Linked DNA regions of Homo sapiens: regions 1 and 2 are each linked to region 3. The links come from fine-mapping of genetic effects on gene expression. A gene starts in region 3. Each other region holds a variant in brackets. All regions are shown on one strand. Distances are from middle to middle.

Region 1 (4,245 bases), 54 kb after region 3:
ATAAAACTTTATAGAAACATATTTTCCAGCATCAAGAAAAATGTCAAAGAGTAACATTTTATTGATGAATTCAGATTTTAAATATACAATGAATAAAAGAATGAATTTTACTTTCCCATATTCCAAATCAAATAGAAAGCAGTTTTAGGAATATGTGTCATACAAGAAGAATAAGATATAAATTAAGGAAGGTCTTGGTGAAAGAAAAATGAAGCTGCAAGTGAGGTCTGTTTACAAAATTCAGTCTTCCAGTTCTGTTTCTGTGCTAAAACCAAGCCATCAAAGTTAGCTTTGAGCTTTGTAGCAGCCAAAGCCAAAAACGGAAACAACTATCAGTCTTTAATACGATTCACAATGTCTTTTAGGTTAAAACAAATCAGTTGCCTAGGAGAAGCATACATTTTCTTGCTATTGATGCATGAGAAAATTTCTCTTTAGGGGCTTTATAACATAGATACTATGCAATGCACAGGTCTTCAGTCATAAGAATAGTCGTACTTACAGTATGTTGAAGTCTAGCCTCTAGAACAGGGTCTGGCATACAGCAGGCACTAATATTTACTGACTGAATGAATGTAAGCATAATGCTAAAGCACACTCAGAACAATTATACAGAGAGCCAAAAACACTAGGTCCAGGAATTTGACTTTCTGGTCATCTGGTTTGATCCAAGCATAACGTTTAGAATATCTAGAGTAACAGACAATTAATCTCTCTCAAGCAATGAATATTGCTTCTTCCAAAAGAAATATAAGTTATATAGCAATGATTTGGAAAATATGGTTGGAGGACACAGGAGGCAGTACTGAGTCACGGCTAAGAGCAAGTTTATACTACTGATCAAGAAGAGGTCTACTTTTATAGAAAAGGAAATAGTGACAGCTATTGGGAGACAAAATAACATCTTTATTACGCACAGACTGAAAGGATAGAGCAAGATAAAAAGGCATGGAGTAAACCTGGTGACTAGAAAAATCAACATAGGTGATAAGTTTAGCTCACATGAAGTGAAAACTGCCCAGAAGTAGAGGGTAACCTAATGTACAAATGCTCAGTGCGGAATCTACAAGAGACAGTGACTAATTCATGATTACTCTCCTTACAAAGTTTATATATACATACGTTTGAGAGATGGCTTAGAAGTTCCAGATACCAGGCTCTTATGACTAGGAACATATTTATTTCCATTTATTTCCGTCATCACAAAGTCTCTGAGCACAGAGGGCCAGGAAGGAGGCATTTAATCCAGTTACCTGCTGACTTATTTTATCAATGTGTGGTGTAAATATGTTTCAGCCAAGCAGGTCTGCCCGGGAATAGTTATTTGAATTTACTTCAGCAAGTCATTTTAAAAGTTACTCATAGGAAATTTTAAAAATTAGAAAACACCTAAGTAGACCACATAGAAAACTAGCAGATCTCAGCTGCCTTCAATGCTTACCTCTAGGGAGATGGACGATATCATTTTCACTAGGCGTGGGCCACAGGGGAACCTCCAGGTCAACCTCTCCTCGATGGTTTGTCTTCTCAATGGGTATATTGGTTGGTTCTGGGACATACATTTCTAAAAGAAGGGAACATTTTTCCTAAGAGATGATGAAGCTGCTGTATTGTTGGCTTTTGTATTCTCAATCCAAATGGTGCACTCAATTCAAGACCACATTTCCTGGGACATGAAAGATGCAGTTTCTGCCATTTACATCATTCATCACTCATGCTAGAGAATCACGAGCTTTGCAGTGAGGAGAAACATGTCTTATAACATTTAAAAGA[T/C]GAAAGAATTCTCTACTCCACCAGGGTCAAAAACTGCTTTTTCACGTCAAATGGTGTTGGTTTTATAATTTTATGGAAACTGAAGGGGACTAGCTGAAGTTATTTATTACTTTCCAGCAGCTAATAAATGTTGGTGTTTAATAGCTGCTGCTCTTTAATATGGGGGTATTGAATAACTTACATAAAATATGTTAGCAAAACTTGAAAAAGTTAAAGCACTGTCCACTTCTTATGGACTTCTTGGCCATTTCCTCTCCTTTCTCTTCCCCTAAATGGGAATGGACTGTAGGTAGACCTCATGAGTATAAGTCTCAGATGTCCATTATGTTACCACTGGAACCATTTAGATTAGAAGCTGATCTTCAGTAAATATATTTACATTATCCAGTTTGATCAGATAGGTATTATACTACAACATAAAACAAACAGAAGAATATTATTTATCTCAAATATCAGGTCTTTTTAAAAAAAAAAAAAATCAGAACTTTTCTCAGCTCCTACAAATATTTCTTTGTATTTATACTTCATCCAGCTAACGACAACTAGCCCCACATTTTAAAGCAATTAATTCTTCAGAACCTGTTTTCAAAATGTGACAATAAAAGTTTGTGTCATGCACGTATTTCCTTTCGGGCAGATCCTGCCATATTATTCACTGATTTTTTTATAAAGCAATTACTCAACACGTAGGATCCTAAATACTCACCATAGCCTAATTTAGACCAACATAAAATATACAGTATAAGTATATAAATTAAAATAGGATTAATAATCCCCTCTGCTCAGAGTGATTGTTTTCTGTCTCAAAGTTAACAGGCTTTTGAGAAGTAAACCTTAAGATGACTTTGAGAGAAGAGGAAAGTGATAGAGAAGAGAGTACTTGCTAAGCTTCCCCCATGAGTTAACTGGGTACCCAGCCAGGGAAAGAAACCCAGAGAGGTTAAGTTAAATCGCTCAAAATCATGCATCTAGTAAGTGGTAGAGCTGGGATTCAAATGCAGTTCTGTGATTCCAAAGCCCAAGTTATCTTGTTGCCTCCAAGAATAGTCTTCTGCTTTCTTAGTTATATTATAAAACCTTTAAACATAAAAAGAACTGGGAACAATTATAGTTTCTACAGGTTCAGTGCATCCCTGCAAACTCGAGAATTAAAAATAGAAGTTACTGAAAACATTACCATTTGCAGGTGCAGGGGCCTGAGCACAAACCAGTGACTCTCAAATTTTTAAAAATCATATCAGAATTACCCAAAGAGCTTAGAAAATGTGCTGACTCTCACAGGTCCTGATTCGGTAGGTCTGGACTAGGTGATTCCGGGAGGTGTGTGCAGGGGGATGGTATTTAATGCACCCACTGAAAAACTCTCATGTGTGGTATGAATTTCCTGGGTGAATATGGGCAGAAAAGCCATGTCGCCATTTACTTGACACCTTTCAGTGCCACACACACCCTTCTGCCCCTCCCCTGCCTAGTCCAGGGCTTCACACTGAGCCTTCCTATGACAATAGGGGCCGAACTGCCACTGGTTTCTGAGGCCTCAGTGTAAAGGGCAAATGCGACACCAATTCCAACAAACCTGTAAATGTCAATGGCTAAGTAGTAAAAGTTTCTGCAGAGGCCCCAGAGCTGGGATTGATTCAGTTCCACCTCAGGTTTTTTCCTGAGTGAGAGGGAGAGACGTAACTTTGGAATTCTTTTGCCTTGACCCTGCATATGGGTAGATTTCCGGTGAAACTCCACCAAGCTGAGGCATGACAGTGAGTCCTCTTCCCACAGGGGCTCTACTTGGAAACAGCAGGGAAAGTTAGAAGGATCTGTCTATGGTGAAGGAGGATGTCTTCTTCAGTGATTAATTGTATTACCATTTGTTCAACAAATATTTCCTGAGCACTTCCTACATGGCAGGCACTGGTTTTGGGCATACAGTTTTGAGTGAGACCAATCCTGGCCCCCATGGGTCTCTCCTGATGAGTGATGCCTGACAGCCACTTCTTACTTCCAGCAGCTCATAACCTGTCCTGTGTATTAGCTCACTCCACCACTCAGTTCAGCTCTGATTAAAATCCACCCACACCTCCTTCTTTATCACAGAACACGCACAGCTCCAGTTCACAGTCCTCAAGTCCAAGGGAAGAGAGTCATTTCCCTTTAATTTGAACATAAAAGGGAAGCTGCCTCTGAGCAGTTTTGCCAAAAAGAACAATTCTTTCAGTTAAAAAACTGCTTGTTGAAACAAAAAGAAGTGGGAATGCTATTTGTTTCCACGCCTAGACCCAGGCCGCCTTCTATGGCCAAAGACCGCCTTCAACCCAAGACTCTAAAATATAACCCTTCTGGTATTTACTAGAAGAGCCCTTTACAGCTGTTGGCATTACAGATGGACAGTGCCAGGGAGATTTACACAAAGCTACATCCAGCCCTACCACGAAGATCACGGGCACACGGTCACAATCGCTCCTGTGCTCATACTTG
Region 2 (4,245 bases), 42 kb after region 3:
AAATGGCTGTGACATTAAATACAACAGTAACTCTAGTGTTGATTTGTACTTTTTCTGTTTTTCTTACCTTGTGAAATATTTATGAGCTAAAATTTTGGGAAAAAGCATAACCTAAATCTCCATCATCTCTTACATGTTTAAGAACATATCCATTTATCATAAATAAAATTCCTTATGGATCTTATATATCTATGATTGTCAGTAACTGAATAGGAAAGATTTACGGTAAACACTTTTTATTTCTTATGAATGTAGAACCCGAGGTAGTAGTTATAGGTAGAACATAAATTGACAGTGATGTTTTAAGAACATGCATTCATTCAGCAAATATTTAGTGAAGGCCTACTCTGTACCAGGCCATGATCTGGGCACTTGGGATACTTTAGTGAACAAAGCAGACAAAGATAATGCACCTTCAAGGGGCTTGCCTTAAAAAAAAAATTGTTAGATTTAAATATACATGATATTGAGTATCTCTTATGATGGCCGCAAATGAGCCTTGAATTCTGGTTCTATCCCTGTTATTTTCAGGGATATCCTTGGAAGTTACTTACTCTCTTTTGCTTACATTGAAAAACTAGGATAAAAAATATTTGTTCTATTTACCTCACAGTAAATAGATTAATATATGTATGATTTTGGCTAAGTTACTATCAATTAGCCGTTAAAATGGAGGGATTGAATTTGCTGATCTGTTAGGTCTTTGTTATGGTAAATATTTATGATACTTGCTAATTAGGGGGGAACCAAATGAAAGAGCATCACATGGATGAGTATGGATGATGATACTTATTTTGGAAATTTAAGAGGAATGGGCAAGGAAAACCTAAGAGTAGAAGCAAGTGTCTTATTTCTTAGCTCCCTGCCTGCTAACTTGGAGCTTTTATTCTTTCCTTTGGTGAATAATTCTTTAAAAATTTTATATTTAAATATGGATAAATCAAGTGATGCCAGCCAGTCTGAAATAAAAAATCAAGAGATTAACTGGGTAGCTAGCCCTCTTATTTTCAGGAAGAACTTAAGTTATATGTGTCCAAGATCACACAGGGGGATGGTTAGTTACAGAGCTGGATCTCTTAATTCCCAGGCAATTATACTTTTAATGATGCTGGTTTTTGGTATGTGATTTTATTTAGAAGTTAGAAAAAATTTTAAACATGATTGGAAGCAGAAATACTGAACATGGTAGCCCTCTAAAGAAGGGAACATAAATATTGCTCATAAGCCAGGAATTACTGGCAGGCCTCAGCTTCTCAGATCAAGAACAAATACTTCATTGGTCAAACTAAAGTCATCATAATTCCAGCATCGAGATGTCTTTATAGGTTGTCACAGTTTGGAATCTCTGGACATATTTGGGTCCAAAGCTCCTTTTCTTTCCAAAAGAAGAGCCCTGTGGAGACAGTCACAGTGTTTATGGATATATAGTCTTCCTGATAAAAGCTATTAGGGGATTTTGGGTGCAATAATAATAGTTAATAAAAATTTAAATAATTTGAGTAGTGTTAGTTACAGTTAATACATAGCATGTACTATGTGCCAGGCACTATGATATGACCTTTATATCTGAATTAGTAGCTTAGTCCTCATAACAAACCTTTGAGATTAAATCTAATTATTATTCTCATTTCACAGATGAAGAGCTTGGTGCAAAAGTGGTTAAGTAGCTTGCTCAGCGTCACACAATTAGGAAGTGGCAGAGCCAGGGTTTAAACCCAGGAAGGCTGATTTGACAGTTACACTATTTTGCCTTGTCGTATTGGTGGGGAAAAACAGTGAAATATTTTTACCAGGATGCTTTGGAGAAAATTTGAGTTGGCAATCTCTGTT[A/G]AAGTATAATATTTGTGAGTTTATCTCAACCTGAATGGTCTAGCTTAAAAAAGAAAAACGTTATACTAGGTGGCTGCTTTTTCTATTTTAGTTTTTACTTAGAAGATAAATTTGTCAAATTAGAATGAGGCTAATTCTCCCAGGTTTCTCCCTAGTGCAGAGGAGGCAACAGCCAGGCAGATGCCCGATGCTGCTTCATGGAAGTCTGTTCTTCATTTGGGTCTTTTCTTTGAAAGTTTCTAAGGAGTCTGACAGGATACGCTTGTTGGAGGGTATAGCTGTCCATTTCTTTAAGAGTTTCTCTAGTTTGCTTGATCTGCAGCACTGAGGTTTTCTTGCTGCACAGAGTTCATTGAGGTGCACATTATAGTAACCCACTTTCCGGTATTATTACAGAGCGAAGGCTCCTTGTAAATAACCCAGTTCCTCTTTTTTTGTCTCCACTGTTTGGAAATTTTAAATCAGGGAAGCAACTCTCAGGTAAGTGGGATATTCTTACCGAAAATAAATTCTTGTGGACTTACTCCACTAAAATAAATTATTGGGCCTTTATTGTTGTATCCCCTTATCAGGAAAATCACCTATAATTTGTATGAGTCAGTTATATCCTATAATTAAGGAAGATTAAGGCCACAATGATTGAAATTAAATAATATTTTTGATCTAAATTTTTAATTGTTGTCTTTTTTCCCCTCTTCTATTTTGCAGTTCTTCGTGCCATGAAGGAGGACAGTGAAAAAGTTCCGAGCTTGTTAACTGATTATATTCTGAAAGGTGAGTTTTATAATGGTATAGGTGCGATGGCTGGGAGGTTTGGATTAGTCAGTAAATACATCGCCTTGCTAATACATTAGACAGTAACTTCCCAATGCACAACTTTCATTAATCTTATTATGCAGGGTGAGGATTAGCTACATGACTGACTTCTACCAACATTATATATCATGGTTTTATATAATTTAAGTTTTATTGGAGGTTCTGGGTTGGAAATAATCTCCACAGTTAAACTATAAACATCAAGAGAGGTAGTAGAAGAAAATTAGTGAGATGGCACCATAATCATGTGGGTATCAGATGTTGGCAGATTGGCACTGGGAAATTTGAGAAGGGTGGTCTCTGTCATCTTGAGGACAGTGGAAAGGAGGACAGATCATTAGTGAGGACGGATGAAGGAAGGAAGAGTCACATCTGTGAACAGTGCCAAAGGGAATACGAAAGGGACTGATGTAAGACACAGGGAGGGAAGCGGGGAAATAAAAAGAATGGACTTGCATAAACCCAGGAAAGTGAAAAAGCAGCCACAAATCTTAGAGGCAAGGTGAGGCTCACACAGGGTGGGAATATTGATGAGGCAAAAGAAGAGTGAGAGGTTGAGTTGCTTTGCCGAGAAAAGAGCAAAGTTTGGATGATAAAGAAGGGACGGAAGAACTTAATTAGAGGCAAAATTAATACTTTACGATGAAATATTTTTTTAAAGTAGCAGGTATTCAGGGACCAGATTTTGAAAGCATCACAAAATGCATCTTTGTAGTGTTTGATCAAATTTTGAGAGCAATCCTCTTCTAGTAACAGTCTTCTTCTCTGGGTTCTCTCTCTTCTCCATTAAAGTTAGCTGAGCACAAGGAAGATGAAGATTTCTGAGACATTAGAAACCTCTGATGGTCTTTTCTTAAACCATAGTGTCATGAAAGGGGAACCTCAGTAGTATACACAGGGTGCTCAAAGTGAATCACACATTTCACTTGTAAGAGTCTTGATGCGGTGAGAGTAAGAAGCATGAGCTAGACACTAGTGGGTTGACACTGGAGTAGAACAGACTGAGTTGACATCATTTTAAAAAATAAGCTTTTTTTCTGATGGAGGACTTTTTCTCCCTATAAAATTCTGAAAAATTTTTTTTTTAATACCTGACATCTTTGTTTGCTTTTGTGTTGTGCTAGCATTGGTATGAAAGCTGGATTGTTCTGAGGTTCGTTCTTCTAGATGTGAAACAGGAATGAGACGAACATAAAGAACATGTCTTAAATTTTAATTATATCGGGTTCCTAGGCCTCTATGAGGGCCAGAGATAGAATGAGCTTCTGAAGCATTCTCTAGCTATTTTAGCATTTAACTGCATGGAAGGATGTTATGACCCAAAGAACAGAGTCCTCTGGGGAAAAATGATTTTTAATTCTTTACTCTGAAAACCTAGGACTATAATTGTGAACCTACCTATACCGCATGCCTTAGGGAAGCAGCACCCATCTAATTCTGCTCCTCATGCTCGGGCCGCTGGCTCCTGTCTGTAAGCCCAGTTCTATCTATACTGTACCTGCTTCTGATGAGCTGTCTGTGTGCATGTGTTGTGGTTTTGTCTTGGCTTTGTATTGTGAGGACTGGGTGGAAAAGCAGCAAGGATTTAGACTACAGTGG
Region 3 (4,245 bases):
AATAATCAGAGGCGTCCCTGCAATGATTAAACACCAAGGGAAGGCTGCCTTCCCAGCCCGTGACCGGCGCCGGAGTTTTGGGTCCACGGATAAAACGTGTCTCCCTTGTCTCTACCAGAAAATGAAAGGAACTGAAATTAAGAGAAGGGAGAGATTGAAGTGCGGCGCCAAGATTGAAAGGAGAAAGAGGTTGAGGGATAGTGAGGGAAGCTGGAGAAGACAGTAAAAAGAGGCCGCTTACTGGATTTGAAATTGGTGAGATGTTTTTTGGGCTGGTCGGTCTGAGGACCTGAGGTCGTAGGTGGATCTTTCTCATGGAGCAAAGAGCAGGAGGACAGGGGGATTGATCTCCCAAGGGAGGTCCCCCGATCCGAGTCACGGCACCAAATTTCATGTGCGTCCGTGTGAAGAGACCACCAAACAGGCTTTGTGTGAGCAACACGGCTGTTTATTTCACCTGGATGCAGGCGGGCTGAGTCCGAAAAGAGAGTCAGCGAAGGGAGATGGATTATCATTAGTTCTTACAGGTTTTGGGTCAGGCGGTGAAGTTAAGAGCAATGTTTTGCGGGCAGGGGTGGATCTCACAAAGTACATTCTCAAGGGTGGGGAGAATTACAAAGAAACTTCTTAAGGGTGGGGGAGATTACAAAGTACATTGATCAGTTAGGGTGGGGCAGGAACAAATCACAATGGTGGAATGTCATCCTTAAGGCTATTTTTACTTCTTTTGTGGATCTTCAGTTACTTCAGGCCATCTGGGTGTATATGTGCAAGTCACGGGATGCGATGGCTTGGCTTGGGCTCAGAGGCCTGACAGCTAGATTTTGTATTTTTAGTAGAGACGGGGTTTTACCATGTTGGCCAGGTTGGTCTTGAACTCCTGACCTCAAGCGATCCGTCCACCTGGGCCTGCCAAAGTGCTGGGATTATAGATGTGAGCCACCTCGCCTGGCCTACTCCAATTTTTTTGTATTGTAGTAAAATAAACATAAAATTACTATCTTAACCATCTGTAAGTGTATAGATCAGTGGCATTCAGCACATTAACACTGTCGTGGAACCATCACCACCATCCATCTCCATAACTCTTTTCATCTTGCAAAACTGAACCGCCCAATCACACTTAGTTTTTATGAGGTCTAAACAATTTCTTGTTACTCTTATCACTCCGACATTGTAAGCCCTGTGTATGGGGCACCCATGTATTAGTTATAACATACACATAGGGTATCTACTATTAGGCATTGCTCTAAGTGCTTTGCAAATGTTAACTGGCATAATTATCTTTGTATGTTCTGCAGGATCTAGCCAGTGCTTTGCACGTGAGAGGTAAAATATTTGAGGAATGAACTTCGGTACCACCTAAACATTTCCCATTGACTCTGGCTGTTATTCTGGTTGGCAAGTTAGGAAAGGAGCAGGTTACCTTGGGGAAAACGACTTTCGGGGCGTAATCTGATATTAGGTCGTAAGTTTAAAGAAGTCCTTTATTTTAGCCACATTTAGGCCAAGTTGCTAATAAGGGAAGCTAACAGGGAAGTTATTCCTAAATGATAGAGAATATAGGAAGTGACTCAAGGCAGTTAAGGTCTTGGCTTTCTAGTAGCACCGCGTTCAACTCCAGGAAGACTCAGGCCACCGGAGACCCAGGGTTGGGACAGCCTGGGATCTGTCAGCACGGTAGCGGGCGGGGGCGGGGCTTCGGGCCGGGGCGGGGCCGGGCTGGGCGGGCTGGGCCGGCCTGGGCGGGGCGCGCGACTGCTCCGGGCGGCGATGGCGGCGGACGGGGACTGGCAGGATTTCTATGAGTTCCAGGAGCCGGCCCGGAGCCTCCTGGACCAGGAGAACTGTAACGCGAGCCCCGAGCCTGGGGCGGAGGCGGGGGCCGAGGCGGGTGGGGGCGCCGACGGTTTCCCGGCCCCGGCCTGCAGCTTGGAGGAGAAGCTGAGCCTGTGCTTCCGCCCCTCGGATCCGGGCGCCGAGCCCCCGAGGACGGCCGTGCGGCCCATCACGGAGCGCAGCCTCCTGCAGGGGGACGAGTGAGTGCGGGGCCCCGGCCGGGAGTGGGCGGGAGCCTCCCCTACCCCTCGCCCGACCGGCAGCCCTACGGCCGCAGCTCCTCCCTGCGCCCTCCTTCCGCCCGGACGCGGGAGTCCCCGCCCTCTCGCCTCCTTCCTCCGGCCGTCGGCCTCGGCTCGCCCAGCAATTTAAATCCCCTGCCCCCCGCCGCCACGAGCCCTGAAAACCTCCGCCTCGGTACCTCCCGCCCTCCTTCCTGCAAACCAAACCCTCGTTTGTATTAGAAGGGAATCGCCCATGCAGAGCCCATAGTTAGAGACGGCACCTCCTGGGGCACCTCCTGGGGCACGTGTGTCGCCATTCATTCACTCAAGTCGCATTTATTAAGCACCTGCTGAGTGCCAGGCGCTGCTTCGCACAGGGAACACCAAAACGACTGGGCACTGTCCCTCCCACTTAGGACACAACGTAGGATGGGAGATAGATTTGTAAACAAATACATGTATGGATGTAATTAGCGCTGCAATGGTTATATGTACCAAATGTGAGAGACTTAAAAGCGTGTGTCTTGGGGAGAGTAAGGAACGACTTTATAAAGAAATGTGCAAACGAGATCTGACTGATGAGTGGGAGTGTGCCTGGCAGGTGGAAAAAAGTCTAACGTTCTAGGTGGAGTATATTGCCTGTGCATAAGTACCAACGTGCGAGGCAGCATTTAGGGCACAGGAATCTGTGGGACCCACCCGGGAGCCCTGGTAGAGTGCGAGCCGCCACAGAGACGAAAACGAAGGGCCCTGCTTACTGATGGTAACGATCGCATGGTCTGGTGGGGAGACCAAGGCATACACAAGTAATATTAATAATTACAGAATCACCTAAGAGCAATGATAGGAGGTTCACGGGGTTTTATCACAGCTGGGAGAGGTGAGGCGCAGAGTTCCTGAGGGCACTTTTTAAACCACCTGAGCCGCAATTATAATTTGGTTAAGTAAGAGTTGTAATTAGGTACCATGGTTTTACCCCCAAAAGATGGTAAATAGGAATGGTGAGAGTAAAGGGACTTGAGCATGTTGTGTATATAGGGGGAGAGGAGCCTCCGGAGAGGCTGAAGGTAAAATGAGTGGAATAAGATTGGGCGCGGTGGCTCACACCTGTGATCCCAGCACTTTGAGAGGCTGTGGTGGGAGGATGGCTTGCTTCCAGCAGTTCGAGACCAGACTGGGCAATATCGTGAAATCTGGTCTTTACAAAAAAATTAAAAAAAAATTAGTGAAGTCCGGTGGCGCATGCCCGTGGTCCCACGGACCCAGCTGCCCGGAGGCTGAGATGGCAGGATTGCTTGAGTCCTGGAGGCGAAGGTTGCAGTGAGCCATCATCGCACAACTGCACTCCAGCCTGGGTGTCAGAGCGAGACTTTGTCTCAAAAATGAGGACATGGGAAGGAATGGATTTTCAGAGCATTGATGGGATGGAGAGACTCTTAGAGGTTAGGGAAGAATTTTTGAGAGACAGGACAGGAGTCACGGGCACGGAAAGGAGTTTCCAGCCTGATTGTCTCCTTTCCTTTGTGAAACAAACAGATTTATCAGGAATAAGGTAGGAAGCTTGTAAAGACAGCCTTGGGAGTGGGGCCTGTAAACATGGCTGAGCAGTGGTGCAGGCCCACCTGTGTTTGGAGACCATCTCCTTTTATTGGTTCCTCAGTACAGTGTTCTGCCCAGGTGTAGAGAAGGGAAACACTTATAATTGGATTTTATACACACATGCATGCCGTCAGTAGCAAAAGATGACATTTTTGGAAGCCTGTTCCCAAAGAGAAGATAATTTTATGTATATGTAGATTTAGATACTCTGAATCACTAAACCCAGGACACATTCTGGATTTAAAAATTAGTGTAGATGTATTATGTATTTGGGTTTTTCAAGAGTAGCTGACTTAAATCAATTAGAGGATTGTACGTAGATCGTTAAGAGTTTTTGTTTCACTTAGACCGTCAGGAGAGTAGGTTATTTTAGCCTTTGCTTAAAAATATTTTGTCGCTCTTGTTAATGGTATTTAGTAGATGATATGTTGGTGGTAATGCATGTCTCTTGACTTGGGAATGCATATGAAATCTCTTTTTTTCCGGGAGTTGGGAGCTGGTCATCACTGGCATTGTCCCTTTTATATTGCAAAAACATACTCATCATTGCTTGATAGTCTGTTCCAGTTCCCTTTTCACTAGA

Direction of the effects. Alleles are on the strand shown, and positions count from the first base shown. SD is a standard deviation of normalised expression in the study named.
For the expression in hippocampus of the gene that starts at base 1,748 in region 3, allele T in region 1 goes with a higher level than allele C (moderate effect, 0.61 SD a copy in GTEx).
As copies of A replace G in region 2, the expression in monocytes of the gene that starts at base 1,748 in region 3 goes down (moderate effect, 0.61 SD a copy in Quach 2016).

What was found. PIP is the estimated chance that this variant, and not a neighbour inherited with it, causes the effect.
Region 1: its variant is the best candidate, but not a certain one, in a credible set for the expression of FEZ2 in hippocampus (GTEx, PIP 0.89).
Region 2: its variant is the best candidate, but not a certain one, in a credible set for the expression of FEZ2 in monocytes (Quach 2016, PIP 0.64).

Annotation. Positions count from the first base shown.
Region 1 is chr2:36,541,695-36,545,939 of GRCh38, reverse strand. It overlaps CRIM1 (cysteine rich transmembrane BMP regulator 1), which reads right to left. Exons shown (of 17, transcript NM_016441.3): 15 at 1,442-1,564. Among named protein-coding and RNA genes, the nearest start is that of FEZ2, 54 kb to the left of the region's middle. The variant T/C (reference allele first, on the strand shown) is at 1,774.
Region 2 is chr2:36,554,042-36,558,286 of GRCh38, reverse strand. It overlaps FEZ2 (fasciculation and elongation protein zeta 2), which reads left to right. Exons shown (of 8, transcript NM_005102.3): 7 at 2,539-2,604. Among named protein-coding and RNA genes, the nearest start is that of FEZ2, 42 kb to the left of the region's middle. The variant A/G (reference allele first, on the strand shown) is at 1,831.
Region 3 is chr2:36,595,671-36,599,915 of GRCh38, reverse strand. It overlaps FEZ2 (fasciculation and elongation protein zeta 2), which reads left to right and starts at 1,748. Exons shown (of 8, transcript NM_005102.3): 1 at 1,748-2,039. The coding sequence starts at 1,774. RefSeq lists enhancers at 753-1,679, 1,680-2,607 and silencers at 1,680-1,899, 1,940-2,299.